Linked DNA regions of Homo sapiens: regions 1 and 2 are each linked to region 3. A link means that fine-mapping ties the variant in region 3 to the plasma level of a protein whose gene starts in the linked region. Region 3 holds a variant in brackets. A gene starts in each other region. All regions are shown on their reverse strands.

Region 1 (10,802 bases), not on the chromosome of region 3:
CTGAAGTTCAGTGGCGCGATCTCGGCTCACTGAAACCTCCGCCTCCCGGGTTCAAGTGATTCTCCTGCTTCAGCCTCCTGAGTAGCTGAGATTACAGGCACCTACCACCACACCTGGCTAAGTTTTGTATTTTTAGTAGAGATGGGGTTTCACTATATTGGCCAGGCTGGGCTTGATCTCCTGACCTCATGATCCTCCCACCTCGGCCTCCCAACATAATGCTGAATTTTAAAGGAGAAGTCTCTAAGCTCCATTTGGGCGAAGTGCCCTGGCCCATGAGTGCTGAGCACCTGCCCTCATTCCTGTCTTACTCCACTGGGGAAGCCTTTTGACACAGGAAGCAGGAGCCAGCAAGATCCCAAGAGCATCAGAGAAAAGTGAAATCAAGCAGAATGATAAATTCTTAGAGGGGAAGTTAATTTCAGATGTTTTAGTTAGGCGCTTCCAACTAAAGGCTCAATCACTTCAGTTATTCTTCACACCAATTTGGTGACAGAGATGTGATTAAAAGTCAGGTCTCCTGTTATGATTTATGACAGAAGAAAATGGACAGGCACACACAGTATTGTTTTAGCAGGCAATTAAGCACGACATTTCTTTAACGTCTCGTGGTTTGTCTTAAAATGTTATGCACATTTTTTTCATTCTACATGATAACATAACGTCGATGATTTTAATGTAAAAGAAAGTTTCAAATTACTTGTGGTAAAAAGAGGACTCTCCAGGAAGATGCCTCATGCCTCTTGGCATCTTGCCACTTGCCCCAGGCATGCACATGTCCCAGTTTAAAAGACACAGCTTGATTATGGATAAAAAATTATTTTAGTGCTAGGGAATGCTTCCATGGGCTTCTCCTCTCCTCATCCCTTTTCTTATAGTCTACGGCCTGTCATCCCCATATCCAGCCCCAGTCCTACTGAATCAAGCAGGGCCAAATTCCTACTCATCCTCTGAGGTTCGGGTCCATCATCATCTCTTCCAGCCAAGCCTCCTATGACCTTCCAAGTCCAGTTGTTCCCTTCCCTATTGTCTAGTCCACCACATACTAGATCCTGGTCATATTAATATCTAGCACACACCTGCCACATTGCAATCAGTCTATTTGCATATTTACCTCCTCCAGAAAGTAGGACACATACAAGTACTCAATAATATTTGTTAAATGAGTGAACCGAGGTGATGGCTGCAGGCTCCCTGGAGCTAATGGCCCAACCTGTCCCCAGCCCCTCCCAGCTGGGGCTGTGAGGGTGGGAGATAAGTGGTCACTTACTGGCTAGGGGAGGGGCTTCGGAGGTAGTGGGCCTGCACCGCCCTCACGTTGGCTTCGTCCTCCTCGCTTGGGACTACCTGCTCCTCCTCTGTGTCCTTTCTGGTCGCCATGACAACCTGCCAACCTCTGAAAGTTTGGCAAGAAAAAGGCAGTTAGGGAATTAGGTTCCTGAGGTTTTGTTGGGGGAGAAGTTGTGTTGGTGATGTCACCTCAGTGGAACTAGGACTAGGAAGGTCCCGGTGGGCAAAAGACCAGCAAGGAATATCCAGTCAGACCTGGCCCAGCCACTGTTACCGGGACACCAAGAAGTGCACCCCGCCATATTAGGAGCCCACCTTGAAGTGACAATATTGAAGTGCCAGTGTGGCTCCTTCCACAGATGTCAGCAAGGGAGCAGGCAGAGGAGCCAGCAGGTTACCTGATCTCAGCTCAAAAAGTTGAAGAACAATGACTTCCCTGGACCAGCAAGATTTTTCAGTTGAAATTATAGGATGTGCATACACACACGCCCCTCACCTATGCCCATGCGCACACCTTTGTCTCTGCTGGGGAAGACACAGCTGGCCTTCGGTGTCTCTAACCAAGGCCACAGGAGGTAGGGCCTTTGGCTCAGGCGTCATCCTGGAGCCTATTAAAGGACATGAAGGATACCAGCAGCTGGTCCCAGCCATCATGGTTGTGCCCTGACACTCAGGGCAAAGCCGCTGCCCCTTGTATTGTAAGTCCTGGGCTCACCAGGATTGACAAGGGGAGAAGCACACTCACCTCTAACCTGCCTGGATGTTCCCCACCAAGGGCTGAGGGACCCAGATGAAATGACTGAAGCTGAAGCTCCGGCCAGTGAGACAGGAACCAGCCACCTCCTTCCTCAGGGCTTCTTCTCCTAGGGGCAGGACAGCTGTTAACAGGAAACCTTAGCCACCCTCTAAATTTAGCCTCTGGCCCCATAGGCTGGCAGATTTCTGGGAGGAAGGAATGCAGGCTCTGGACCCAGGCCCCAAAGCAGTCCTCACTTAACTCTTTCCCTCCTGGCTGATTCTCCAGACGCTTACATTTAGCAGCAGAATTGGAAGACGTTTGTGCTTGGTAGATGGAGAATCTAAAGAACAGCTTTTCTCTGGGTTCTCTCTTCAGACCCTCTTGCCTGGGACAGCCTATTCAAAGTTCTTCCAGAAGAGAGTCTAAATCCAAAGATATAGAAGAATAAACAAACTTACCACAGCCGCATGTCAACTAGAGAGGCCTAAAAAAAGGACCAGATATATAGAATGGAAAGGGTACTCAACAGATAGATATTGGGAGAGCACTGTGGTACAATTAAAGAGTAGTCATTGCTTGTGACCAGGATTACATTTCTTTTTCTTTTTTTTTAGACAGGGTCTCGCTCTGTTGCCCTGGTGAAAGTGCAGTGGTGCCATCACAGCTCACTGCGGCCTCAACCTCTCAGGGTCAGGTGATTCTCCCACCTCAGCCTCCTGAGTAGCTGGGAGTACAGGCACATGCCACCACACCCAGATAATTTTTAAATTTTTTGTAGAGATGGGGTCTCACTGTGTTGCCCAGGCTGGTCTCGAGCTCCTGGGCTGAAGTGATCCATCCACCTCCGTCCACCAAAGTGCTGGGATTACAGGTGTGAGCCACCGTGCCCTGCCTGCATTTCTTTTAATAGACATGTCTCAGGATGGTCAACTGGACAGTTGTGCTCACCCTCCACATTTCCTCCCCTCTACTCACACCCCAAGGTGATAATGGATTGGCAACCCTGGGTGACTTAAGAATTCCATGAGCTTCATAAATGTCAAATAAGCTGTCTTACCCTACTAACCCCTCTACCATCACAATGATCAAAGCAAAGCCAAATAGCCCACACCTCTCATCCCACACATACCATAGTCATCCTTTCATCCATTTATCCATCCATTTACCAACTTAAAATATTCATTGATTACCTACTACATATGACACTTTACTTGACCAAAATTGGCAAAACACATAGCTTAAAGTTGTCTTTCTTCCTAGTTAGGTGGAATGATGCCTGGTATATCGTATCATTAGAAATGGCTGAATGAATGAGCTCACTGTTTATTAGGAGGAATGAGACACAGACCAAAAATAACTCAAGCATAAGAGAGAATGTAGTTAGTGTCCTAAAAGAGATCCAGAGTGCTGTGTGAGTTCAAAGGTGAGAAAGAGCCCTTCTGACTGAAGAAATCAGGAAAGACTTCATAGAAGCAGTGGTGATATATGAGCTGACTTCTAAAGGACAAGTAAGATTATAATAGCAGATATAGTAGGGGAAGGGAATTACCGAGGGGGTGGCATCAATAAAGTTTTGGGGGTAAGGAAGTATGAGTTCTGGGTATGAAAATATGTCTAACTTGGTCAGAGCATAAATTACGTATTCTGGAAGGTAGACTGTGTTTGAGAACAAATGCTAGAATACCTTAAAAGCTAATTTGTTAGGTTCTGCAGAGTCAGTGATAGGACCCAAGCAGACAAGTAATTAGGAAGACTAATTTGGCAAAGATATTATAAAATGTTGGGGCTGAACAATTATTACATATAATAAGAGAATTAACAAGGTGCCTGAGTGAAATGTAATAAACAGAAAACAACAAATTTTGTATGTCAACCAAACCTAGCAGTCAAAAGGATTAATAACAATAAGTCATGTAGGATACTATGAATTCATAACACAAAGAAATGCTAGGGGAAATATTTGCAATGCTTATCACATCCAAAAGTTCCTTTCCCTAATATACAAAGATCTGCTAGAAGTCAACAAGCTAAAGATCAACAGCTCAATAGAAATATGGCCAAACGGCTGGACGTGGTGGCTCATGCCTGTAATCCCAGCATTTTGGGAGACTGAGGCAGGATTGCTTGAGCCCAGGAATTCAAGACCAGCCTGGTCAACGTAGCGAGATTCTGTGTCTATATTTTTAAAAATTTATTAAAAAAAGAAATACGGGCAAATGAGCTACCTAGTCTCAGAAAAGAAAATATATATGATGTGCAACTATATTAAAAGATTTTCAATTTCACTAATAATTTTTTTTTTTGAGACAGAGTCTTGCTCTGTCGCCCAGGCTGGAGTGCAGTGGCACCATCTTGGCTCACTGCAAGCTCTGCCTCCCGAGTTCACCATTCTCCTGCCTCAGCCTCCCAAGTAGCTGGGATTACAGGCGCACACCACCACACCTGGCTAATGTTTTGTATTTTTAGTAGAGGCGGGGTTTCACCGTGTTAGCCAGGATGGCCTCGATCTCTTGACCTCGTGATCAGCCCACCTTGGCCTCTCAAAGTGCTGTGATTACAGGCGTGAGCCACCGCGCCTGGCCAAATTTCACTAATAATTTTAAAAAGTAAATTATATATACATGGGATATCATGTTCACTTAGATTGGCGATGAGCAGAAAGTTTGATAACTGTGTCATAAACACTTGGTAACTGTGTTAGTGAGTGTGTGGGGAGATAGGTATCCTTATATGCTGCTAATAGGAGTGTAGGCTGTAAAATTCTCATGGTAGCTAGTTTAGCAATATCTATAAAAATTACAAATATGCATAACTTTCAGTGAGTCAGAAATTTTACTTTTAAGAATTTATCTTACATGTATAATCACAACACGTGTGAAATATCGTACACATAATAGATATTGGTTGCAATCTTTTCATAGTTGTGAAAGATGAGGAAAAACAATCTTAAAAGTAGTTTGGTTAAATAAATCATGTCACTCATATACAGTGAAATATCATCCCCATTTTAAAAAGATGATGGTGGTGGTGCTATACATACCGATACAGAAAGCTTTCTAAAACCTTTCATTAAATGAAAAATGAATAAATCATTGCAGAACAGTGTATATATATCTAAAATATCTATGGAAGAAACCAGCAACAGCCACTGCTCCTGGAGAATTATGGTCCCACACCACTGATCATTCTTTCAGTAGGGTGACCATCATCCAAATTTGCTTGGGACTGAGGGGGTTCCTTTTGGTTTGAAAACCAGGACAGTCCTAGGAAAAGTGAGACAAGTTGGTCACATGTCCCCAAGATGATCTTCTTTCACTTATGAACTTGCTACTTTCCCAGTCAGAATATAAACTCTGAAGGGGGAGACTTCCTGTTTTCTTCATGACTATATCTCTTGCGCACTGTGGGGTGGAGGCTGTAGAAGAGGAGAGAAGTAGAGAAACAGATCACATTGTGTCTTGAAGTGTTTCAGCAAATATGGGCAACACCCTTCTTTTACTAGCTTGGAACCCTACCTCTGAGTGCATTTCCCTTTTTATTATTTATTTCCTGTCAGTTATAAGAGAGGCCTACCCCTTTGTGAGCAGTCTAGGACTTTGTACACTTGTTAAGTAGGGAGAAGGCAGGGGAGGTGGCTGGTTTAAGGGGAACTTGAGGGAAGTAGGGAAGACTCCTCTTGGGACCTTTGGAGTAGGTGACACATGAGCCCAGCCCCAGCTCACCTGCCAATCCAGCTGAGGAGCTCACCTGCCAATCCAGCTGAGGCTGGGCAGAGGTGGGTGAGAAGAGGGAAAATTGCAGGGACCTCCAGTTGGGCCAGGCCAGAAGCTGCTGTAGCTTTAACCAGACAGCTCAGACCTGTCTGGAGGCTGCCAGTGACAGGTTAGGTTTAGGGCAGAGAAGAAGCAAGACCATGGTGGGGAAGATGTGGCCTGTGTTGTGGACACTCTGTGCAGGTGAGTAGGCCCCTTTTCTCTCCAGTGCCCAGGGGTGGGTGAGACATGGGGACCTAGGGCTGAAGGAGAGGCTCTGTCAGAGCCTTCCCAGGAAGGGCCTCCAGCAACACAGCTGCGTTCCTGCTGGGCCAGAATTACACATTCCGGACCAGTGCCCAGAATCAGAATGGTTTTTATTTACATATTAGTAAATAACATTCTAGCCCACTGCTGAAATGAAGAATTCAAAGTACTCTCAAGACCATATTTTCTTATCCCAAATTAGATTATAGGATCAGACACAGGATTTGACAATGTGGACAAAGTATTTGAAATCGGAGTTGTCCTAGAAAATCCAGGATGTGTGGATCTAGATATGTTCATTATCTAGTATATTAACGTTTGTGTTAAAACCAGAGAAAGAGACAGGAAACTGAGGCAGAAGAGACAATGCAACTTATCCCGTATCATTCACAGAGCAAGAGAAGATTCAAACCCTAAAAACAAACAACAAACTAGATGGGTCTTTTCCAAAGGCCAAAGCTCCTTGCCACTTCTGGGACCCTGGTCATTGAAAATTCTGGGACTCTGAGCATTTCCCTCTGGGAGGGAAACCTCCCAGAACAAAATCAGACATTCATGAGTATATGGTTGAATCCACATCAAGTGCTTAATAGCACAGTGTTCTGTGGGGACCTATGGAGTGTCTAAGGGTTAGAATGAAAGTCTTGGCATTAAGGTACCAACCATTTTGCTGGGCATTGGAAGGAAATAGAATGGAGAGAAGGAAGTTGAGAGACGCAGGGTTTGGCAAAGTTTAGGAATATCTTTGGTTTAGTGTATTTGGCCATCACCTTGCAATTCAGACACTGTTGAGGGCTTCCAGGATCCAGCTGCAACGGGGAGGAGAAGAGCTATACCAGGAAACTCAGGAGCACCAAGCCTGGGGAAGTGGAAACCAGGAGACTGGTTTAGAGCTCACTTTTTAGCATACACAGGAAAGCCCCGGGCCACGGGGCCTACAGCTCATTCTGGTTCTCCCAGGCCCTAGACATGCTTTTCTCTCAACACCTGGCCTTGGGGCTCTCGAGGGAAGGGCAGCCTGCTGCTGGGGAAGGGCTGGATCACACGGTTTGGAGGAAGATCTGGGTAAGATCATTCTCTCAGGCTGGCTCAAGTTCATCTGACTGAAGGCAGAAAGCCCCTCATCATCCACCAAGATGGACTGGTTGGCTCATTCCTTTATCCAAACAACTCTTTACTGAGCACATAGTTTGTGCAGGTGCCATAGAAGTGAGGAGTCTGGAATGATTAGTCATAAGTGGGCCTATCTCAGCCATCAGATTCAGGCAGGGAGGATGCTCCAGGGCCTGAGAGAGGGAGGCTGAAGGAAATACCCATCCTTCCCTGGCTGGGCCAGTGATTCTCCCATCTTCTCCTGGTAAGCCAGAAGCTCCTCCATGCCTGCACCACCCCAACCCCCAACACATATCCCCACACTTGTAGACTGGCTGCGACCCATGCATGAATAAAAATAAGAAATTTTGGCTTAGAAAAACGATCTTAAAACAAGATGCTCACCCAGCTTGGAGGGAAAAGTGGCCGTAACTCTGAATTGCCTGGAGCAGGACATTTTGCTTCTTCCTATGAGAAGGCAAGTGACCCCTGGGGAACTCACCCAGCAGAACGAGTCTTGGGCATGTTTTCAGACACACTGATGAAGTGTCTTCTACCTCCGCCCCATCCCTCCCACCACAGCCTGCCCAGCACAGAATCACGTGCCCACCAACTTTTCTTCCTCCATATCTTACATTAAGAGGAAGAAGGGGCCAGAGCAGTGGGGCAGGAGAAGCCAGGCTTGGTGGTCGACTTGAGGTATATAAACAGAGTTTACCAAATAGTGAAATAGCCATTGCCACTGCAGGTGAGCAAGGAAGACCTTCAAAGGTCGACCAAAAGCAACCAGGCGGCCCTCCCCACCATGCCTCATGAGAGGATACCACCTCTTCCTTTGCGCAGGTAAGGGAGACCCAGTTAGGAGCAGGGACATTAGGAAAGGCTTCCTGGAGGAGGTGGAGCTTGACTTGGGTTCCAGAGGACTTACTGGGCTTTTCTCTTCTTTCTCTTCCCATCTGACCTTTCCGAGGAATTGATTCTGCTAAGACCTGGGCAGGGAAGCACTGCACTGATGAATGGGCCTCAAGACTCAAGTGGTGTTGGAGGAAGCAGAAGCTATTCATAAGGTTCCATGCAGGGGGCACAAACGCAAGGCCGTGCTTTTAAAGTAGGGAGTTTAAAAGCAATCATAAAACCGACTAAAAGTTGGTCTGCTTTGTGTGTGTGTGTGTGTGTGTGAGACAGAGTCTGGCTTGCTCAGGCTGGAGTGCAGTGGTGTGATCTCAGCTCACTGCAACCTCCGCCTCCCAGGTTCAAGAAATTCTCCTGCCTCAGCCTCCCTAGTAGCTGGGATTACAGGCATGCACCACCATGCCCAGCTAATTTTTTGTATTTTTAGTAGAGACAGGGTTTCACCATGCTGGCCAGACTGGTCTTGAACTCTTGACCTCGCAATAAGCCCGCCTCAGCCTCCCAAAGTGCTGGGATTACAGGTGTGAGCCACCGTTGGTCTGCTTTTTATGATTATCATGTGCTGACAATTCTAAACAGAGTCAGTGACAAAACAGACCTCCATGCCTGGGAAATGTTCCACCCGTCCCTCCTAACACTCCACTGCCATCCCAGGGGACCAAAGGGGGCTGACCCCAGTGCCTCTTAACTGACTATGGTGTGGGCAAATGGCTTCACTTTGCTAAAGTCTTCTTGCACAGTCTTCTAGTCTGAAATGGAGGGGTGTAAAATTCACACTGTGCCCCAACAGGGCTATTATAGGTACTAAATGAGTTTGCACATGTAAAAATCTTAGAAGAGGACTTGACACATAATAACAACTCAATAAATGCCAGTTATGAGTGCAGTTATTATTATTACTGTGGGGGAATGTAAGTTACAGAAAATTAGTAGACTTTGGTGACCAATTATCCGAGAGCTCTGAGATGGCAGACACGTGCCAAGAAAGGGAGTCAGAGGTCACTGTGGATGAACCCTAAGTTATCACCAAAAAAGCCGCCATGCGCTGCCCCCTCCACAAGGCTGTTAGAGAAAATGCTCCAATGTGTGCACAAAATCAAGGCACTTCCATTCCAGGATTTTTTTTCAGCCACCAGACTTCATGAAAGATTTGATGTGCTGCAATGTGCCGCTGCATGAAAAGGGATGCATAAAGAGGCAAGCTCCAGGAGACAAAAGTCACTGAACAGCTCTGCTCAGAGCCAGTGAAACCTTTGAAGACCCAATCTCTCACACACACACACACACTTACTTACACACCCCACCTTCCTAGAATGAGAGGAAGCTTCCTTGTTTTTCTAAGTTAAATGAGAAAAACTCAGGAGAACTTTAACCTGGGAAAGGTGTAAAAGCTTTCTTCTCTCTAGAAAAAAATGTTTTTTCTCCCCCCATATAAAAAAGTTTCAGAAAACCCACAGGTGCTTGATCCATGAAGAGTTTTTGAAGGGAACCAAGTTTGCAAGTTGCTGACATTTTGAGGCTGATTGTGCCATTTTAGAACCCTTCCCTGGCATCTTTGTTAGAGGCACAATCCCAGCAGGAAGATTTTTCCTAAATGTGGTGCCCTACACTTGTCTGCTCTGAAGTGCCATGTTCGTGTGGATCACACAGGTGTGGGTTGGTCCCTGGGGTCTGCCCTATCACGATGGCCTATCTGAGCCCAGTGTCACATGTCTAAGCTCTGTGCAGTGGCCTAGCCTAAGATATGTGGTTTAGGGGCTTAGCCTCAGATGTGCACTTCTGATGAGACCCTGGACCTCAAGAGGGTAGTATTTGGGCCAGAGCCGGGGTGGTGTCAGCCCGCAAATGCAACTGCAAGATAAGCGGCCCGCCCACCATCTGCTCTGTGGCCCTGGGTCCTGTTGCCATTCCAATCCTAAATTAGCCTGGCTCCCCGCTGGGGCCTGGGCCCCACCTGCTGGCACCTGAGCACAAGTCAGAAGCCAGTGCTTGTAGGAAGAGCTCATGCACCTGGAATGAATCACATTGCCTCCCTGTCAGAGACGCAATCAGGATTAAAATGTCCTACTCTAGTCTCAGTCCCAGCCTCAATGGAGAAAAGATGTTATGAATGGTCGGTCTAAGAAGGTTAGGTGTTCAAAAGAGGAAGACTAATAGTTTAGGCCAGTGGCTCTCAACCCTGGTTGCCCATCAGAGTCACCTGGGAAGTGAAAATACAGATGCCCAGTCTCCCCCATACCTTCTGAGTCAGAATCCAGAGGGGAAGGATCTGGGTTTCTCTCTGGTTTTTGAAAAGTTACTCAGGTGATTCTGATGTGCAGTCTAGGTGTAGAGACGAATTGGAACTTAAGGAAAAGTTGGTTTAATGAACAGTTGCCTCTAATACACTGCATGTGACTTTTAGCTCAGTTTTGCATCATCCAGCTGCTTCTCCGGTTACTGTCCAATTCCCTCAATTTAGGGGGCTCAATGGTATGCATTCTCCCACATTAGTGTGCATACAAGTCATCTGGGGATCTTGTTAAAATGCAGATGATTCGGTATGTCCAGGGTAGGGCCTGAGATTCTGCATTTCTAATGAGCTCCCAGGGGATGATACTCCTGGTCCAGGGACCAGAGTCTGAGAAGCAAGGCCATAGGGAAGAATTGGTTCATGGGCACAGGTGTGATCCTCATCTTGCCTTTGCCCACCAGAGTCCCCTCTCAGGGCTTTTTGGTAATACAACCATGCTGCCTATTGTGATGCTGGT
Region 2 (10,369 bases), not on the chromosome of region 3:
GGGTCTTCGCCTGCCTGTTCAGCGTCCGCACCTGGCTTCTACGAGCCCACAGCGCGCCCACGCGTTGCCATAGCAACTTGTCCCTTGGGTGTCATGCGGTAGCCAATCACAGGCCTGTGTTTCCCCACATGTCAAAGGCTGGGCCTATCACGCCTCTCTCCTGGGGATTGGCACGCCTACGACACAGAGAGGAGAAAAGGGAAAAGTGCCGGAGGGAAAGGCAGCTGCCGGCTCCTGATGCTGAGAGGGCACCCCCTGCCCCGACCCCGAGAGCTTTTTTTTTCTTTTTCTTTTTTTTTTGGACAAGTTAGCAGAATTGGTTTCTGTTATTTGCAAGGGAAGAACTTGAATCCATGCTCTCTGGATAAATCCCTTACTTCGTGTAGGCCTATTTCCATCCCAACTATTAATAATAAACTGAACCTCAGTCAATCTCAAAACAGTCAGACATTTTGACGTCTTCTTGTACTAACTGCATTATTACTACTTAATATAAAATTTTCTAGCATCCATACTTTACAAAACAAAAAGAAATAGGTAAAATTAATTTTGACAACATATATTATTCAGGCCAATATTAAAATTGTTAAGTTATTTCGCTTTTTTTTTTTTTTTTTTGAGACGGAGTCTCACTCTGTCGCCCAGGCTGGAGTGCAGTGGCACGATCTCTGCTCACTGCAACCTCCGCCTCCCAGGTTCAAGCGATTCTCCTGTCTCAGCCTCCTAAGTAGCTGGAATTACAGGCGCATGTCACTACCGCCCCACTAATTTTTGTATTTTTAGTAGAGATGGGGTTTCACCATGTTGGCCAGGCTGGTCTCGAACTCTTGACCTCAGGTGATCCACCCGCCTTGGCCTCCCAAAGTACTGGGATTACAGGAGTGAGCCACCGCGCCTGACCCAATAACACATTTTTTTAAAAGGACACGCATTAAACACATTAAGCTGTGTCTTGGGGAGGAGGAGGAAGGGAGTAGGAATGGAGATAAACGTAACTAAAATAAAACAAGAGAAGTGTTTTGAACAGATCAATTATAAAACATGCCATAGGGCACCAAGAAAAAAAGTGTACAGGGAGGATCGAAGCATTCTCAGGTCCCCTCACACTCTGTCACTGCCTTAGGTGCTCAACAATCTCAGCCCCAAATAGCCTTTGGACACTTAGCCAGGGGCATTCAAAAACAGCTAGATGGCAAACAGCCAGACAGAAAATTGGAGTATCAACAAAAGGACTAGCTTTACATCAGAGTTTCCTCTAGCACTAAATGCTCTGAGAAAACTAAAAAGGCATATCTACAAATTGCAAGGGAAAATATTTTGACACAAATACAATACTGACTTAAGCTTTTCATATGTGAATGATCATTCATATGCCAAGGTGGAGATGGAAGTCAGGGAGAAAAAAAGACCTTTCTTAGACTTTTTTTTTTTTCTTTTTTTTTCTTTTGAGACGGAGTCTTGCTCTGTCGCCCAGGCTGGAGTGCAGTGACGTGATCTCAGCTCACTGCAACCTATGCCTCCTGGGTCCAAGCGGTTCTCGTTTGTGCCTCTGCCTCCCAAGTAGTGGGACTACAGGGCATGCCACCACGCCAGGCTAATTTTTGTATTTTTAGTAATGATGGGGTTTCCTCATGTTTCCCAGGCTGGTCTTGAACTCGTGACATCAGGTAATCCACTCGCCTCGGCCTCCCAAAATGCTAGGAATACAGGCCTGAGCCACCGTGCCTGGCCCTTTCTTAGACTTTCAAGGACTCACATGCACACTGCCTACTTACTCATTTGAGGGAGATTCTATCTATCTATCTATCTATCTATCTATCTATCTATCTATCATCTATCGATCTATCTGTCTATCTATCTATCTGCCTACCTACCCATCTAAAATCATGGAAAGACAAAGTTACAAGAATGGCCAACAGATGTGATCTTGTGTTCTAGCTCCAACTGACTGTCCAGAGCACTGTCCAAGAAGGATTGTGACATTCCATCCAGTCTCAGATGTAAGAGTGCCTGGATTGATTAGTAACATCAGCCACAGGCCCCTGTGCCATATGCAAACCCCTGAACTCACAAAGAAAAGTATTGAAGTTGAGAAACCAAACACAGTCTTCTTCTAGGGTGTGGGATGAGATTTAGACACATGGGATATTCATGTTGACCACTCCTGTATTGTGTGGTTTCTTATGCGTATACACTGCTTTCATGAGAACAATACATGTAATTCCATTTTTAATGTGTGTATATATTTCTATGTATATTTTGTCTATTTGTATGTATGTTTTTTTTTTTTTGAGATGGAGTTTTGTTTTTGCTGCCCAGGCTGGAGTGCAATGGTGTGATCTCGGCTCACTGCAACCACCGCCTCCCAGGTTCAAGAAATTCTCTTGCCTCAGCCTCCTGAGTAGCTGGGACTACAGGCATGTGCCACCACACCTGGCTAATTTTTGTATTTTTAGTAGAGATGGGATTTCACCATGTTTGCCAGGTTGGTGATCCGCCTACCTCAGCCTCCCAAAGTGCTGGGATTACAGGTGTGAGCCACTGCACCCAGCCTTTGTATGCATTTTTAAATGTAGGTATTATTGTACTTATACCTTTTGAGACAACAATTCCAATTTTTGATATTTAATTAATGGAACTAATCAGATCAGTGTACAAAGACGCAGGTAAGCTATTGTCCACAGTGGAGTGGTGTTTTTTTGTTTTTTGTTTTTTGAGACAGAGTCTGGCTCTGTCACCCAGGCTGGAGTGCAATGGCACCATCTTGGCTCACTGCAACCTCCATCTCCCGGGCACAGGCGATCCTCTCACCTCAGCCTCCTGAGCAGCTGGTACAACAGGCATGTGCCACCACGCCCGGCTAATTTTTGTATTTTTTGTAGCGATGGGGTTTCATCATCTTGCCCAGGCCAGCCTTGAACTTCTGAGTTCAAGCGACCTGCCCACCTTGTCCTCCCAAAATGCTGGGATTACAGGCATGAGCCACCGCGCCTGGCCAAAATATGTTTAAAATATGTTTAATATTGTTACAGTAAACACATACCAACCAACAAAAAACCAAAATGACAAATTGGATACAAATCCAGAACCGAGAGTCAGCCCTCCTCAGCTATGTTAGATGCCACAGAAACAAGCGACATATTTCTTTCTTTTTTTTGAGACAGAGTTTCACTCTTTTTGCCCAGGCTGGAGTGCAATGGCATGATCTCAGCTCACTGCAACCTCCACCTCCCAGGTTCAAGTGATTCTCCTGCCTCAGCCTCCCAAGTAGCTGTGATTATAGGCATCCACCACCATGCCCAGCTAATTTTGTATTTATTTATTTAGAGACAGAGTTTCACTCTTGTTGCCCAGGCTGGAGTGTAGTGGCACCATCTCAGCTCACTGCAACCTCCGCCTCCCGAGTTCAAGTGATCCTCCTGCCTCAGCTTCCTGAGTAGCTGGGATTATAGGTGCCCGCCACCACATCCAGCTAATTTTTGTATTATTAGTAGAGACAGCATTTCACCACATTGGCCAGGCTGGTCTCGGAACTCCTGACCTGAGGTGATCCATCTGCCTCGGCCTCCCAAAGTGCTGGGATTACAGGCATGAGCCACCGCACCCGGCCAATTTTGTATTTTTAGTAGAGATGGGGTTTCACCACGTTAGCCGGGGTGGTCTCGAACTCCTGACCTCAGGTGATCGGCCTGCCTCGGCCTCCAAAAGTGCTGGAATTACAGGCGTGAGCCACTGCGCCCGGCCAAAGACATATTTCTATCAAAGCACGTATCCAGTTTGCTTCTAAAGTGAGCATCATATTGTCATTTGCATGATTAAATTAAACTTTATGCCTTATTTGCATTTTGTTAGTTTTGCCTTTAATGTTCTTTTCTTGTTCCAGGATCCCATTTAGGATGTCATACTGCATTTAGTTGTCTTGTCTCCTTAAGCCCCTCTGGGAGATCTCTGCATTTTAAACAGGGCTTAACCATCGTGCCATTGGACTGTGACTTCTGCCAAAGACCTGGGCCACCCATCCCCAAGGCAAGATGAGGACACTCACCCCGGATCCTGAGTTCCTGACGACTGCCTTGATCTGCTGTTGGGAGCAGCACCGATTTCTGTATCTTCCTTTTCCTCCTCTTTATGGGAGAACAGGATAGTCTTTGCACTTGAGCTCTCCCAGGCAGTAACAGCTGTCACTTAGGGGACAGTGCCTGGAGAGCCTGCGGCAGCTGGACCCATCTGGTAGCTCTGGCCTTAGCACACGCCCAGGCCTGGAGCCTTCTGTATCACTCCAGGGTGACTGACCTCTTGAATGAGTGCACTCAGAGTGCAAACAGGCTCCACCTGACTTTCACAATCCGAAAGCACCAGTAGCCCAGTGCTTTCATTGTTATGTGTTGGCCTCAAGTAAAGAGAAAACATCCGGATCCTCTGGACAGGCAGGAGAATGGACTGCAGAGGACCTGCGGTCTGTGGGTTCCATCACTGCAGGGGGATATGTAGTGTGCCCACTCCAGGTCTCTATTGCCCAATATCATCAATATTTAACCACGGAGCAGGGAGCCAGGCTGGCCTTTTACAGCCTGTGCTTTCTCATAGTGAAGGTCATGGCATGATGTGAATTCCTCACAAGGAGCTGTAAAATATGACCTTTGGAGGTGGGGGTTGGGAAAGGCTGTGTGAGCACCAGTGACCCAGAGAGTAGGAAGCAGGCCAAGGCAAGTAACTTGATGGGGAAGCAGGAATGAGGTGCTCCTCCCACCTGACCAGCACCATTCAACTCTGATAGTCTATGGACTTTTCCACCAACTGGCTCCGTGCATCTTAGGCAATCATTGTTGGTTTAGCAAGGAGTGGGCTTATGTGAAATAAGCCCACTCCTTTTTTTTTTTTTTTTTTTTTTTTGAGATGGAGTCTCGCTGTGTCACCCAGGCTGGAGAGCAGTGGCACAATCTTGGCTCACTGCAACCTCCACCTCCCCGGTTCAAGCAATTCTCCTGCCTCAGCCTCCTGAGTAGCTGGGACTACAAGTATGTGCCATCATGCCCGGCTAATTTTTTCTATTTTTAGTAGAGATGGTGTTTCACCGTGTTAGCCAGGATAGTCTTGATCTCCTGACCTCGTGATCTGCCCACCTCAGACTCCCAAAGTGCTGGGATTACAGGCATGAGCCACCACGCCCAGCCGCCCACTCTTATTTCTTACTTCACAAATGAAACAGAGGCTGAGTGAGGTCACATGTCAAGCCCAAACTCCTCTATGAGTTAAACATTAGTCAACAGTGTGTACTGTGTGTGCATGGGGCAGAGGAAAGAAGACCCAACAGGGAATCTAGGGGCTGCCTGGAACTCCAGCTCCTCCTCATTTTGTAATGCATTCATTTATTCATTGAATAAATGTTACTTGAGCATCTACTGTGTAGATACATGGTAAATAAGACAGGTGAGGGCCCTGCTCCATTGGAGCTCAAACTCCAGGGGAGATAGCCAACAAAAAAGTAAGCAAAAGCATAATTAAAAGATAATTATAGCAGTGATCATTTCTGTGAATATCTTAAACAACATAATAAGATAGAAAGGGATGAGGTGGGGGAGACATGATTACTATATTACTACACTAAAAACTGAATGATGAGGGGTTAACCATGCAAAGACCTGAAAAAGCAGGTACAAAGGCCAGGCGTGGTGGCTCATGCCTGTAATCCCAGCACTTTGGGAGGCCAAGGCAGGTGTATCACCTGAGGTCAGGAGTTCGAGACCAGCCTGACCAACAAGGTGAAACTCCGTCTCTACTAAAAATAAAAAAATTAGCCAGGTGTGGTGGCAGGCGCCTGTAGTCCCAGCTACTCAGGAGGCTGAGACAGGAGAACTGCTTGAACCCGGGAGGCGGAGGTTGCAGTGAGCTGAGATCGCACCACTGCACTCCAGCCTGGGCAACAGAGCAAGACTTCATCTCAGAAAAAAAAAGAAAAGAAAAGAAAGCAAGCAGGTACAAAGACACTGAAGAAATAATGAGCTTAATGTGTCTGGAACAAAAAGGTGGCCAATATAGCTGAATCATAGTGATGAGGGGGAAGTGGCATGGAATAAAGTCAGAGGACAGACAGGAGTATCCACTCCTCATGGTGGGCCTTGTAAAACAGGGTAAGGAGTTTGTATTTTACCCTAAAAGTGATGAGAAGCCACTGGAGGGTTTAGGCAGGAAAGTGACATAATCTAATTGACATTTGTCTAAGATCACTTGGCCTGCTGGGTGGAAAATGGATTGTAGGAGAGCAAGAGAGGAACAGGGAGACCATTGGGAGGCTGTTATATTCATCCAGGCAAAACATATTAGTAGTTTGGACCAGGCTGGTGGCAGTGGAGATGATGAGAAGTGGTCAGATTCAGGGTGCATTTTGGAGAGAAAGGTAGTTGATAGATTTCAAGAGAGAAGCTCAACACTAACTCTCTTAAACACAAAAGGAATTTATTGGCTCATAAACTAGGAAGGGCAGGGTGGAGCTGACCTGAGGCATACGGGAACCAGGGATTTGACGACCCGTAGTGCTTTGTTTCTGTGGCTCTTTCCCTGCTTTTCTCTGGGTGCCAGGCTCATTACCCCAGGCTGGCCACCTCCGGGAAGCTTGACCAGATGATAGGAAACCCAGGCTCATGCTCTCATAGCTGCAGAGGAAGTAGCTACTTTTCTTAGCTCTTGTTTAAAAATTCTTGGAAAGGACTCTAATTGTCCAGCCTGAGTCATGTACCTATGTCTTGGATCAATTGTTATGGCTAGGGAGGGGGGTACCACTGATAGCCAACTCAGAGCTCATCATGCCTGTTGGGTAGCCAGGAGAGACAGGCTGTGAGCTGGACAGCCCATGCCATGTGGGTGCCTGAAGGAACCATTTGACCTCAATCCCCCTTGTCTGCCTCTGAGGAGTGTTGTGGTGCTCTAATGGGATGGTGTCCCCTTAACAAGGAGCCTGCACAATCCCAGGTTTTCCACTCTTCTGCTTCTGTGTCTTTTCTCTCCCTCCTCTTACCCTAGCTCTTTCTACTACGGCCTATCCAATAACTTGTTCCATGGTTGCCATGTGCCAGGCATTATGCCAGTGATAAACAGTCGAAAGGATTGTCCCTGCCCTCATGGAGACTCCAGTCTAGCAGAACAGACAGACGGGTGTTCATCATGTCATCACAACTTCTGTGTGACAAGTGCCATGAAGGAAACGTACACATGGAGATGAGAGCACATCACCAAGCCCTCCTTTCCTCACAGCATCACTATCATTCCTGGCCAATCAATCCCACCTTGAAATCTCCTCTCCTGACTTCTCCAGTCTCTTATCTCCCTACCTAGAGGATGATAGACAGTCAGCAGTGTAGTGGAGTGGAAAGGGCTTTTGGTTTTCCTCTGCTATTCTGGTATCTGCCACCTGCTAACCCTTCAAGCCTCAGCTTAAATGTCATCTTCTTAGGGAGGCCTTCCATATCAGTTGAGAATTGTGTTTGGCTCTGGGTAACAAAGACCCAATGTCAGTGGTTTAAACCATAAGAGTTTATTTTCTCATAGAAGAATGTCAGAAGTAGCCAGTTATTAATGTCGTAAGACCAAGGAAATCAGGGCTGAGGTTTCTAAGACTCCCTCATGGCCCCTAGATGGCTGATGCAGCTCCTGCCATTATATCCAAGTTCCAAGCAGAAAAAAAAGCAAAAGGGAAGAAGGACAAAAAGGTGTGACCATGCTCTATAGTAAACGAATAACCTATCTGAGAGTAAACTCAGATAATACAGAGAACTAAGGTCAAGGGAGTTATTCCCAGAAAACAGTAGCAAGGGCAGCCAGGTGGGCTAACCAAAGAACTTACTCTACTGCCAGGGTGGAGGTCTTCACAGCTCATGCCCAGCAGGATTTGATAACTGTCATGGGCCTGTGCTGCTGTGTGGACTGTAGCACAGCCTGCTAATTTCCCCCTAGATTACATTCTTCCCTTCTTCCTTTTAATAAGAGAATCCTCTAAATTTTAGAGGCATATGGCCACCCAACTGGAAACTGCAGTTCCCAGGCCAGGCGTGGTGGTTCATGCCTATAATCCCAGCACTTTGGGAGGCCGAGGTGGTCGGATCACGAGGTCAGGAGTTCAAGACCAGCCTGGCCAACATGGTGATACCCCATCTCTCCTAAAAATACAAATTAGCCAGGCATGGTGGCGTGCACCTGTAATCCCAGCTACTCAGGAGGCTGAGGCAGGAGAATCGCTTGAACCTGGGAGGTGGCGTGAGCTGAGATCACGCCATTGTACTCCAGCCTGGGTGACAGAGCAAGACTCCATCTTAAAATAAATAAATAAATTAATTAATTAAAAAAATTAATGAACCTGCATTTCCCAGATTCCCTGCAGTCATAAGTGGTCCTCTAAGTTTTGGCCGAAAGAGACCTGAGAAGTGATTGCAACTTCAGAATCACTATTTTTTTTTTTTTGAAATTTATACAAACTTTTTTTTGTTGGAGTATACATATAGGAAAGTACACAAATGGTAAGCTTAGTGAATTTTCACATGTGGACACACTCATGCATGGGAACATATGCCATCCAGATCAACAAATAAAACAATTGCACCATTGCATCCTGTACTCCAGCCTAAGCAACAGAGTAAGACCCTGTCTCTAAAAGAAAAAAAGAAAAAGAAATAGAACATTTCCAGATCTCAGAAGTCTTCTCTTGTCACTATCCCTTACAAAGGCAACCTGACTTTTAATACCATAGATTAATTTTGTCTGTTTTTATACTTTATATAAATGTAATCAATCAATATGCAATCTTTTGTGTCAGCTTCTTTTGCTCTACATTATACTTGTGAGATTCATCCGCGTTGTGTGTAGTTGTGGTTCATTCATTCTTGTTGTAGCGTAGTATTCTATTGTGTGACTATGCTGCACTATTTCTACCTGTGGATCATGTTTTTGTGAGAAAATTCAACCCCTCCACTTCCTCATTCCTCTTTCTGGAACACAGATATGATGGTGGAAAGGACATGTCAGGACAGGGGTTGTTAACCTATGGGCCAGATCTTTCTCTTTTTTTGAGATGGAGTGTCGCTCTGTTGCCAGGCTGGAGTGCAGTGGGGAGATCTTGGCTCACTGCAATCTCTGCCTCCCGGGTTCAATCGAGTCTCCTTCCTCAGCCTCCCAAGTGGTTGGGACTACAGGCACGTACCACCACGCCCAGCTAATTTTTGTATTTTTAGTAGAGATGGGGTTTCACCATGTTGGTCAGGATGTTCTCAATCTCTTGACCTCATGATCCGCCCGCCTTGGCCTCCCAAAATGCTGGGATTACAGGCGTGAGCCACCGCACCTGGCCTATGGGCCAAATCTGACCTGCAGCCTGGTTTTGTAAAAAAAAAAAAAAATAATAATAATAATAATAATTCTTACTGGGACACGCCATGCTCATTTGTTTACATATTGTCTAGGGTTGCTTTGGCATTACATTAGCAGAATGGAGCAGTTGTGACGATTGGCCCACAAAGCCTAAAATATTTGCCATTTGGTCCTCATTTACCAAACAAAAAAAGTGCCAGCTGGGTGCAGTGACTCACGCCTGTAATCCCAGCACTTTAGTAGGCTGAGGCAGGTGGATCACCTGAGTTCAGGAGTTCGAGACCACCCTGGGCAACATGGTGAAACCCTGTCTCTACTAAAAATACAAAATTAGCCAGGCTGTTGGCGCATGCCTGTAGTCCCAGCTACTTGGGAGGCTGAGGCAGGAGGATGACTTGAACCTGGGAGGTGGAGGTTGCGGTGAGCCAAGATCACACCACTGTACTCCAGCCTGGGCAATAGAATGAGACCCCATCTCAAAAAAAAAAAAGACAACCCAGGCAACAAGATAGAAGGAATTTGAGCTCCTGATTAACCTCAGGTAGCTGAGCAGCCTACCTGCCCTGGACCACCTATCAGCTTCTGAAAGTGTTATGTACAGGAAAAGTTTGGGGATCTCCCTGTTACAGAAACTTACTCTGTACTGTAACTAATACATACATTCTGCATGTTTAAAAATGGTTTATTGGATAAGTAAATAACATGGCAGCAGAACTAACTTCTAGTCCTGTCCATCTTTGCTACTGACCAGCTGTGTGATCTTGAGCTAGTCACTGGGACCTCAAGTTTTTATCAAAACGCATTAAGGTTCTACAAGGAGTGAAAAAGCAAAGGATTTTAGCAACTACTATCAGAAGGAGCCAATTGTGTAATGACAAAGTCCAGGCCCTTTAAACATGGGAGATTTCCACCTGGGGTCAACCAGTTGGCTTTTCTGCTAAATAAGGTAAAACACCAGTATGAAGGAGAACTTTTTCCCTAAATTGTGATGGATGCTAGAGGGTAGGGAATA
Region 3 (10,371 bases):
CTTTCCAGCAGCAGACCCAGCAATGAATGATCCGAACAGCTGTGTGGACAATGCAACAGTTTGCTCTGGTGCATCCTGTGTGGTACCTGAGAGCAATTTCAATAACATCCTAAGTGTGGTCCTAAGTACGGTGCTGACCATCCTGTTGGCCTTGGTGATGTTCTCCATGGGATGCAACGTGGAAATCAAGAAATTTCTAGGGCACATAAAGCGGC[C/T]GTGGGGCATTTGTGTTGGCTTCCTCTGTCAGTTTGGAATCATGCCCCTCACAGGATTCATCCTGTCGGTGGCCTTTGACATCCTCCCGCTCCAGGCCGTAGTGGTGCTCATTATAGGATGCTGCCCTGGAGGAACTGCCTCCAATATCTTGGCCTATTGGGTCGATGGCGACATGGACCTGAGGTAAGATTATCTATACCTCTAACTACTGCAATCACCTTGGAGTAATCCTTCCAGAAGCCTATGGCATTCTGAATGTCCAACTGATTTGCCACGCATCTAAAGTATGACTAAGGAATCAAACAGGAGAGAATAAATGCATTCCCGTGCCTTCTAGCACAGCTGCTTAGCTATTGGAATTGGGGGATTTATATTTTGTGTTTGTGTTTTTAAATCTAACTCAGTTAACAGGGAGTTGCATAATTGCTGTTGATCTCTAGGAAAAGATTCAAAGCTTTTTTAAAAAAGTAATCTTTTCCAAACCACAAGCTGCAGCTGAGGAGGTTTATCCTGTTGGTAGCAGGAAAAAAAAAGCAAAATACACTTTCTTTGTAATGATGAGGAGCTCTGGGTGCAATCATAAAATAAAACTGTTTGTCAAACATTAGAACCTGTAGTGAGACAGTGGTCAACTCCATCAAATATAGCCAGTTCTTTGGGCAAACATTTTCCTGGTATAAAACCTAAGGAAGAATTTGTAAATTTGCTTCACCTCTACTGGCATTAAAAGTGGGGGAAAAAGCCTATAGCAGCTTTTTTAAAATTATGCTTACCTTACTACAAAATAAACAGAAAACGTTTTCTCCACTTCCTACAGAGTAATCTAAATTGCAATGTTTGCCCATTTCATCCCGTGCCAGTCTGAACTAGCACTGGAAAAAAAAACTAATAGAAATAAGATGAAGCATTAATGTGACTAGATTGAGAAATTTAATGCTAAAAGTTGAATAGACAAATGTCTTTTTCCTTAGCTCACAATTCCTCATTTCCCTTGAAAGGTATGCATTTCCTTCTGCAAACCATCCAGGTGCTAATGCAACGTGTGCTTATTAAATACTGTACAGTAGGCAATTAGCTCTGTTCATCCCCAGCTACTATTGGCAGAGGAGAGAAGCACAAAGTGTAGAATTGTAAACACTGGATTGATAGAGTACCCAGTGATCAATTAGGAACCTGCTGTCTCATTTCAACTGGTGCTGGTTTCTCCAGAAGCTTTAGAAAAGTCATACAAACCCTATACCTTCATATGGTTTAGTCTTTCACATAAGAAAACACATGATATCCACCTTGCAATTGCTTTTTTTTTTTTAAGGAAAGCCCTATAAAACAACATAGGATGGCAAGTGCTATTCAGGTTTAGTTAATCTGTGAACCACGATATAGCAATAAGGTCTTTTTAGACCTCAATTTAGTTTGACCTGGACACAGGTACACAGAAGTGAGAATTCTAAATGCCAGCACCTGTTACACTGAGAAAAGTGAACTACTTGGAACATTGGGCCTTGACCCCCAATAAACAGCTTTCTCATAATATTTGTAACTTTTAGTGCAGAGGAGTTTTGTACCTCAATGTAATACCACATATGGAACCCTTTTATAAGACAGAAAAAAAACGTGTGTGGTACTGGACTATTAGGTTGTTGAAATGAATTCTCTTCTGTGAGCTAAAAACAGTAAGATCTAACCTAAAAGCTCCAAGTTACATTTTTCTGTGGTTTTAAGGAAATCTTATTTCTCTTGAAACAGGAGATGATTATGTAATCCTGTCCACCTAGCATAACAATTCCTATAAATTATTTTTTTTAATAAGAACTAAAAGTAGAATATGAAGCTTTGGTAGAAACCTCCAGCTAAATCCGTGCAAATGAATCCTTCCAGCAAGTCAAAATAAGCCCTGTAACGCAACATGGAGCAACCTCACCTATCCAGAGCTCAACAAGACCCAATAAAAGACACTGCACACCCAAAATAAATTTCACTTAATCTCATAAATGCTCCTCATGCGGGACCGACTTAACTATTTTTATTTTAAAGTTCTGTTGTGCTATTTCCCAGAAATAAGAAGCGGGGAAGGAAGCAGAGTGTTAGGAAGGGCAAAAGAGAAGATCAAATGCCTGCAAAGCAAAGCAGACACTGACAACACACAGCCATCTCTCTATCATTTATCCTCTATCACTTATTCTCTCTATCACATATTCTCTCTTAATTATCAATTATTCTCTCTGGTTTCTGTAGCACTTATTCCAGTCTCTGGTCTCTGTATCACTTACTCTTCTACAAACACAAGAAGATGTCACGGTATTTTAGAACAACCGATAATCATGTTTATCATGATCGGTCTTAATCATTGAGAAGAGGTTAAATTATACTGCTATGTAAGATGATGACATTATGCATTGTGTGTTAGGAAAACAATATTCCAATATTTCTTTAATACAAATTAATTAAAAGGGTAAAACCTGAGCTATTGCGTAACAGTTTTCCAAAACTTTTTATTCTTCTGGATTAAGAACTGGATAACTAAAGTCTCCTGATAATTTACTTAGATACAATCCTATCTAACATTTATATTTCCAGTTGTGTACACTTAGAATTTTACCTTCTCCATCTCCACTTGAACTCCAGCAATGGCATGAAGACATGACTGTTTATGTTAACAGGCAGCTACACTAATTGAGCTAATGCCACACAATGCCAGCAAAACCATTCCACCTGGTTTTAACTCTCTTGGTTATGGTTCTTGGGAGAAGAAACCAAAACATTTCTCTCTCACTCTGTCATCTCTTATGAACCTGGAAAGCCACCGCATTTTGCAATCTCTAGTGACTTTGAAAAACAAAAAAAAAATAGACAATAGTCCTTGATCATTGGAATCCAGCAAGTACTATTTCAGCTCCTTCTCTGACCACTCCCAGCCTGGAGTTTGTGAATCTGATTGGTGCACATATATTTTCACCTAAGTTGCAGCTGTGCCATGGACATCACATGCACAAAAAGCATCAGGGAGAAGAGATGGTGACTTTTCAGGTGAATCTGCTTGTGGCCAAAACCCATAGTTGAGAGGACACAGAAACATCCTATCTCCTTTTTGTCTGCTCTCTCCCCAGACACAGGCAAATATCCGGTGTCTTCATCCTTCTTAATGGCCTCAGCGACACCATGCAAGGACTTCTCATTTCCTTTCTTTGGCTTCCTCTTTGGGGAATCCATTCTTATGCATCCTTCTCCCAGTTGCCCCCAGTTCCTTCCCTGCCACCTACTTTCTACATTCCTTTTTATTATTTTACAGACTTTCCTACCACATCCTTTGTTCTTTGGGCAAATGCTGTTAGATTTTTCAGCTTCCAGTGCAGCATTCATTGATATTTTAGATATTCAAGAAATCTCACCCTGTAGCTTACCACAAATTCACAGCAATCAATCCTTCCTATGTCAACCCCATAAATGTCCTTCTCTTCTCTACTCTGGGAGACCTAACCCAAAACCATTCGGCTTTTTCCTTTATTCTCCCTAAAAGTAACCAAACATTGTTTCTCTCCAGTAGCACTGATTTTACTAGCTAATATTTATTAAACACTAGTATATGCCATGCACAGTGCTAAGTACTCAAAATAAGTTGGTATATTTCATCCTCCCAAGAATCCTCTAAAGTTAGTACTATTATTTTCTGCATTTGGCAGATAATGAAGTTAAGATTCATAACCTTGACCAAGGTCATTGAGTCAATGTATGCCTGAGTCAGAATTGGAATCACCCAGGTCTACCCACTACCACTTTGCAGGCTCATAAGCTTTCTCTACACTGCTTCTATCACTTTTCACTTCTCCAGTTTCTAGCACTGCCTATATACGCTACGTTAGAGCCTTCAAACTTGGTATTTTACTTCTAATATGATTACAATCTTTTACATTGCTTAACACTGATTTCACTGAATTCCTCAACATTCACTAAATTTACATTTATTCTTTCTTTTATTTCCATACACACAAAAGAAAATCTCCCTGGCAGTTAATAGAGCTGAAGTCAAAATTAAGACCAAGATTTTTTTTTTATTTTTCTTATACTTGACTCTTTTCTGTCAGTCTAATATAAATTCAAGGCAGTGTATGTATTTTTTATATACATGCCTTTTATAGAACTTCAGATTTTTTCGTGTAAGATAATATTTTCTTTTGCTAATTTAGGCTTCTATATTATTTCTTAAAATTCGTTATCTGTGAATTGTTTTAAATCTCATTTTGAGTGGTTTGATTTTGTTCTTATATTCATTCAAATAGCATCAACTTCCAGCTACCTATTCGTCTGTTCATCTGCAAGGTCTCTTCGTCAGTGCTGCTCACAAGTCTAAACCTTTCCTTCTCCAAACCCTCTTTTGTCCCTCATCACGATCCTTAAGAAACTGCTCTCACCAAACTCAAAATTATGATACAACGTCATAGATTGTCTTAGCAATATTCAGAATTAAAGGTTTTGCAAGGATCTTTGAAAAAAAAACAAAGACAGAAAAAGACTTCCTTCTTAAACATTTTCTCACATTTTAAAACAAAAATTCTCAGACTTCTCTTCACTGGAACCCAGTTAATAAATCCTCCTCACTTCCCCACCAGATTCCCACCACACTCTAGAAAAAAATATTGGATGCACAGAAAAAAAAGTGATTTTATTATAGGGACAACTTTAAATCCATTCTAATATATTTTTTAAAATAAAATAAAAAAAAAGAGAACACTGAAAGAAGAGAGGAAGGAACAGAGAAAAAAATTACCTTCAAACTCCAGTACTTTCATTATAAGTAGGACAAAGTACTATTAATAACAAATTAACTTGTTTGTCTGGTGTACAATTCTGCCTTAGCATCTATTTCATGCCTAAATTTACCTATAACCAGAATAGATTGAACTGCTTAAAGTTTTAAATACATCCACATTATTTGTTACTGTTGTAATATTTTAGCTCTACTAAAACAAGTATTTTTATCTAAATTATTTAAGCCTATTTTAAATGAGGTCATTCTGGTTAAAAATAAATATATTATTAGAGAAGTTAAGCTCTCTGATGAACTTTGTCCCACCCTGTATTTTGCCAAACTGTGCAAATTTAACTGTGCCTTGAAACAAAATTTCTCATTGTTAGCTCCTTTCTTAGTATAGTGTGTTGTTGTTGTTGTTGTTTTGGGGGGCAGGTAATATAAATATTTAACATTTTCTTTCAAGTACACCCATAATACCCTTAAGAAATTACTACTCTTGACAACCTCAATGACGACCTGTTGAGAGAAGGGCCTTTCAGAGAAATTTCTCATTTCTCTAAGTTTCCCGATTCTATTTGGTGGAACACAAGATACAAAAACATGGTAACATAAATGATCACAGCAGAGAGATGCAGGGTGCGGTGGCTCCCGCCTGTAATCCCAGCACTTTGGAAGGCCTAGGCGAGCGGATCACCTGAGCCCAGGAGTTTGAGACCAGCCTGGACAACATGGTGAAACCCCATCTCTACAAAAAATTTAAAAATTAGCCTGGCATGGTGGCTCATGCCTGTATTCCCAGCTACTCGGGAGGCTGAGGTGCAAAGATCACTTGAGCCCAGGCTTCAGTGAGCCAAGTTGGTGACCCTGTACTCTGGCCTGGGTGACAGAGAGAGACCCTATTTAAAAAAAAAAAAAAAAAAAAAATGGTAGTAGCAACCAGCTCTTAATAGAGTGCTTTGCATTGGTCTAAGTGCCGGACACCATTGGCTCATTCTATCCTTACAGCCATTTTAGATAAGGAAACTGGTAAAGAGAAGTCAACTAAATTACTCAAATTAACACACTAAGTGGCACCGCCTGCTTTCAGCCCAGACAGTGTGTGGCTTTAGAGCTCAGGCTTTAAAGGCAGAGAATGTACGCTGTGTACAGATCCCTTTGAAGAGGACCCGGAAGACTCACTCCCCAAAAATCTTTCTTTGACCCACTGTCCTAGTACTAGAGATAGCATCATTTGGCATTAATGTCTCCATGTAGATAGCCTACTCAGCCAGACCCTCTTATTAAAATGCAAACACTCTGAGCAGGGATGATACCAGACACTAGTTCTTCTGAACACACATTTGCCAAATTGCCAATAACTTACTCAGTGCTAAGAATTTATGTCTACCCTGCCGCTTGCATGCTTTCTTTTGATTTTTAAGTCAGCTTCCGCTTCTTGTCCCAAGCTAGGGTCACTTGGGCAGTAATTTTTCTGCTTTATGGCAACACAGCGAGGCCTCCTCCCTCGGACATGCATTCTATTCCAGGGGCCCAGGGAGGCCCATTCCATCTCAGCATGGTCAGACACATGCAGCCTTGGTGGTGTCAGCTGCTTTAAATGTGTTTGCTGTTCTTTGATTGAATGTTTGAAGGATGGCACACCCAGCGAACCTTATACATTATTTAATGATGACTTTAACCCATCGTTTAATACTGTTTCTGACCCTTAAGAATAAAAGGGGAGGGAAGGACGGCACAAGGCAAAGTGGAAAGACACCAAATATGGCCCATTTTGCTCAAGGCCAGGCCCTGAATACACTCAGGCACATAGGCACATGTATATTACTGTTCATCACACCAGACGATGCTACAGGTTGAGACAGATTCTTGCAGGACTTTCTTATCATGAATCGAAAATAAAAATTTTCTCCCATTCGGGAGGTTGTTTGTCTACTCTGCTTATAGTTTCCTTTGCTGTGCAGAAGCTCTTTAGTTTAATTAGATTCCAAGAAAACAATGAACAAACCCATTAAAAAGTGGGCAAATGACATGAACGGATGCTTCTCAAAAGAAGTCACACATGCAGCCAACAATCATATGAAAAAAAGTTCAACATCACTGATCATTAGAGAAATGCAAATCAAAACCACAATGAAATGCCATATCACATCAGTCAGAATGGCTATTATTAAAAAGGCAAAAATTAACAGATGCTGGCGAGGTTACAGAGAAAAAGGAATACTTATCTTCTGTTGGTGGGAGTGTAAATTAGTTCATCCATTGCGGAAAGCAGTGTGGCAATTCCTCAAAGACCTAAAAACAGAAATACACTCAACCCATCAATCCCATTACTGGGTATATACCCAAAAGAATACAAATCGTTCTATTATAAAGACACATGCACACATATGTCCACCGCAGCACTATTTACAATGGCATACATATGGAATCAACCTAATTGCCCATCAATGATAGACTGGATAAAGAAAATGTGGTACATACACACCATGGAATACTATGCAGCCATAAAAATGGACTAGATCAAGTCTTTTGCAGGAACATGGATGGAGCTGGAGGCCATTATCCTTAGCAAAGTAACACAAGGACAGAAAACCAAATACTGCATGTTCTCACTTATAAGTGGGAGCTAAATGATGAGAACGCATGGACACATAGAGGGGAACACAGACACTGGGGCCTATTAGAGGGTGGAGGGTGGGAGGAAAGAGAGGATCAGGAAACATAACTAATGGGTACTAGGCTTAATACCTAGGCAATGAAATAATCTGTACAACAAACCCCCATGACACAAGTTGACCTATATAACAAACATGCACATATACCCCTAAACTTAAAATAAAAGTTAAATTAAAAAATAAAAATAAAACAGCATCTTCCCTAGAACACCACAGGTGGATGTATCAATCTGCCCATTGCCTTTCAGCGTCAGCATGACCACATGCTCCACACTGCTTGCCCTCGGAATGATGCCGCTGTGCCTCCTTATCTATACCAAAATGTGGGTCGACTCTGGGAGCATCGTAATTCCCTATGATAACATAGGTAAGTCATCCATCTGTAAGACTGTTGACTGTTACCCTCAAACTCTCTGCTTACCCCCTGCTAGGCTCTCAGACCAGGCTCACACCTGACCGTTATTGCCCTAGTAGGAGTTTTTGCCTGATTTCATTATAAAGTCACCCCTGCGTTTGGAGAGTGATGGCAGAATGTAAATTCCAAACCTTGACCTTATGGGAGAACCTGTCTTTTCTTCAATTTGAATCACCAGGGAAAGGAGCCCCCTCCCCAGCCCTCAGTCTGGACTGAGGAGGCTTAAGCTTTGGGGACATGGGAGCTTGCACCTATTCCTTAACCCAGAGTGTCACTAGTTAATGGTCATAGGATTTTGCATCCAGACACTTGAATTGAAGAAATTTTTTTTTTTTTTGAGATGGAGTCTCACTCTGCCACCCAGCCTGGAGTGCAGGGGCGTGATCTCGGCTCACTGCAAATTTCACCCCCTGGGTTCAAGCAATTCTCCTGCCTCAGCCTCCCTAGTAGCTGGAATTACAAGCATGCACTACCACGCCTGGCTAATTTTTGTATTTTTAATAGGGACGGGGTTTCTCCATGTTGGTCAGGCTGGTCTCAAACTCCTGACCTCAAGTGATCTGCCGGCCTCAGCCTCCCAAAGTGGGATAACATGCATGAGCCACCACGCCCAGCCTGAAGAAATTTTTTAAAATCACATAATGGTTTCAAAATAGAGCACTGAGTAAGCAATCCAGAGTGTTACAACAGAAAACTGCTAGACGAAACACACTGTTTCTAACACTCGACTGTGAGCCACACCTTGACCCAAAAGTTGATTTAATGGCAAAGTCATGCTCCAGGAGTCAAATTTACTAGTAATGACTCTGTCTCATTTCACCCTCATCCCAAAAACCTTATTTTCTGTTTCTGGGGAAACAAATTATAGTGGGAGATTAAGTTATTGTTGTAACTTAGGGATGAGGGTCAAAGGAAGAACAAGAGAGTTCCTGGTATACCAGGAATAGGCATTTCCCACAGAACTATCACGAACAAAAGACAAGATGTGGGCAAAATAGTAAATCAGTAACAATCACCAGGTACACTATATGCCCCAAATACCTGGGTTTTTTTCCCCACTGACCTTGGAAAAAAATCCCAATGAGCTGCCTCAGAAAGGTGTGGGTTTCCCATTGAAGAAAGCATCCAAGCAAAGGCTAAATGATAAGCCACCTGGATGCTTGTAAAAGGGACTCCTATTGGGATAGGAAGCTGGGCTGAAATGCCTTCCATTTCTGAGAAAGACTGCTTCTGTGATTTAGGGTGATTGAGGGAATATACAACTGAATTAGAATAAACTTTGTGAATACTAATTGGGGATGATCTGTATTACAATGTTTGTAGCCTCTTCTCTCTCTCCTACTCTTACCATTACCATTAGACCAAAAAAAAAATTGTCCTCCTTGACATGCCCTATTCAGTATGGGCTTTTGATATACAAGATTCTTCAGACTCCAGGAGAGAACCTTAATATCATATATAACCTCCTGACAAGAGACTTTAGGGTGACCCTCCACTACCACCTGCTTTTGCCTTCATGCTGCTTGACTCTCTGGCTGCTCTGTCAGCGGACGCCTTCCATAGAGCTAAAAACCATAGTTTACGTGAGTGGTGACCATTATATCCCTCTCAAAGAACCTGTCTGCTGAGTGAGGAATTTTGATTCCACAATACTCACTGTAATAATTTAATAATTTAAGCCATAAAATATTCTCCTTTTGATATACATTCCCTTCTGAGAAATGACTCATGGAAATACTGAATAATTCTAACTGCAGTGTGAATGACTTATACCATATTCTGTGATGTGAATAAATTTTGAAATAAGGAGAAAATGAAAAATCAATTAGCACTTCAATGGAGGAAAAGGTCATCATAAGAGGTCAAGAGTGAAAAGAAAAGAAAAATAGGAAAAGAGAAAAGAAAACGGAAAAAGAGAGAAGTTTGAAAAACAAAGATATTGTTATATGTAAAATATTTATTCAGAAACAGAATACTTGTTCCTCAGTACCACAAGGAAAAATGAGCATTCAGACAAAAAGTTTTCTCAGCAAGGCAATTTTACTTTCTGCAGAAAGAGTGCTCCTCACAGATGGCACAATGGTGACAGCACACCTGAACAATGGAGGGAAGTAATTCGTATCCCTTATGCAGCTTGTCCCTGCTACTGTGTCCTGTCTCCATTGGCTGGAGCCAGACATCACAATCTAAGCTAAAACCTGACTGGCTAATAATTTAAAACTTTTCTAAATAGGTATAGGCAATAGACAACAAAGGAAAAGAGGACGTTGCTTGTGAAAGGACTTAGAAAAGTAATAATATTTCCAAATAAGGAA

Direction of the effects. Alleles are on the strand shown, and positions count from the first base shown. The strength of an association depends on the size of the effect and on how common the allele is.
For the plasma level of the protein whose gene starts at base 5,853 in region 1, C is the high allele of the variant in region 3 and T is the other (moderate association).
As copies of C replace T in region 3, the plasma level of the protein whose gene starts at base 4,241 in region 2 goes up (weak association).

The links. PIP is the posterior inclusion probability: the model's chance that the variant is causal. Protein levels are from antibody-based Olink assays in UK Biobank. Linkage for the fine-mapping came from a reference panel and not from the study's own genotypes, which makes the PIPs less certain.
Region 1: GPA33 starts here. The variant in region 3 is fine-mapped to the plasma level of the GPA33 protein (UK Biobank, PIP above 0.99).
Region 2: SLC51B starts here. The variant in region 3 is fine-mapped to the plasma level of the SLC51B protein (UK Biobank, PIP above 0.99).

The regions. Positions count from the first base shown.
Region 1 is chr1:167,085,428-167,096,229 of GRCh38, reverse strand. GPA33 (glycoprotein A33) reads left to right here and starts at 5,853. Exons shown (of 7, transcript NM_005814.3): 1 at 5,853-5,985. The coding sequence starts at 5,943. It overlaps STYXL2 (serine/threonine/tyrosine interacting like 2), which reads right to left and starts at 2,155. Exons shown (of 6, transcript NM_001080426.3): 1 at 2,036-2,155; 2 at 1,271-1,396. The coding sequence starts at 1,380. LOC124904451 (a long non-coding RNA gene) reads right to left here and starts at 7,630. Exons shown (of 3, transcript XR_007066717.1): 1 at 7,546-7,630; 2 at 6,819-6,907; 3 at 4,849-5,444. RefSeq lists enhancers at 5,678-5,827, 9,443-9,942.
Region 2 is chr15:65,039,259-65,049,627 of GRCh38, reverse strand. SLC51B (SLC51 subunit beta) reads right to left here and starts at 4,241. Exons shown (of 4, transcript NM_178859.4): 1 at 4,046-4,241. It also overlaps a transcript of RASL12 not described here.
Region 3 is chr13:103,055,901-103,066,271 of GRCh38, reverse strand. SLC10A2 (solute carrier family 10 member 2) reads left to right here. Exons shown (of 6, transcript NM_000452.3): 1 at 1-399; 2 at 7,890-8,008. The coding sequence starts at 23. Among named protein-coding and RNA genes, the nearest start is that of SLC10A2, 5.3 kb to the left of the region's middle. The variant C/T (reference allele first, on the strand shown) is at 216.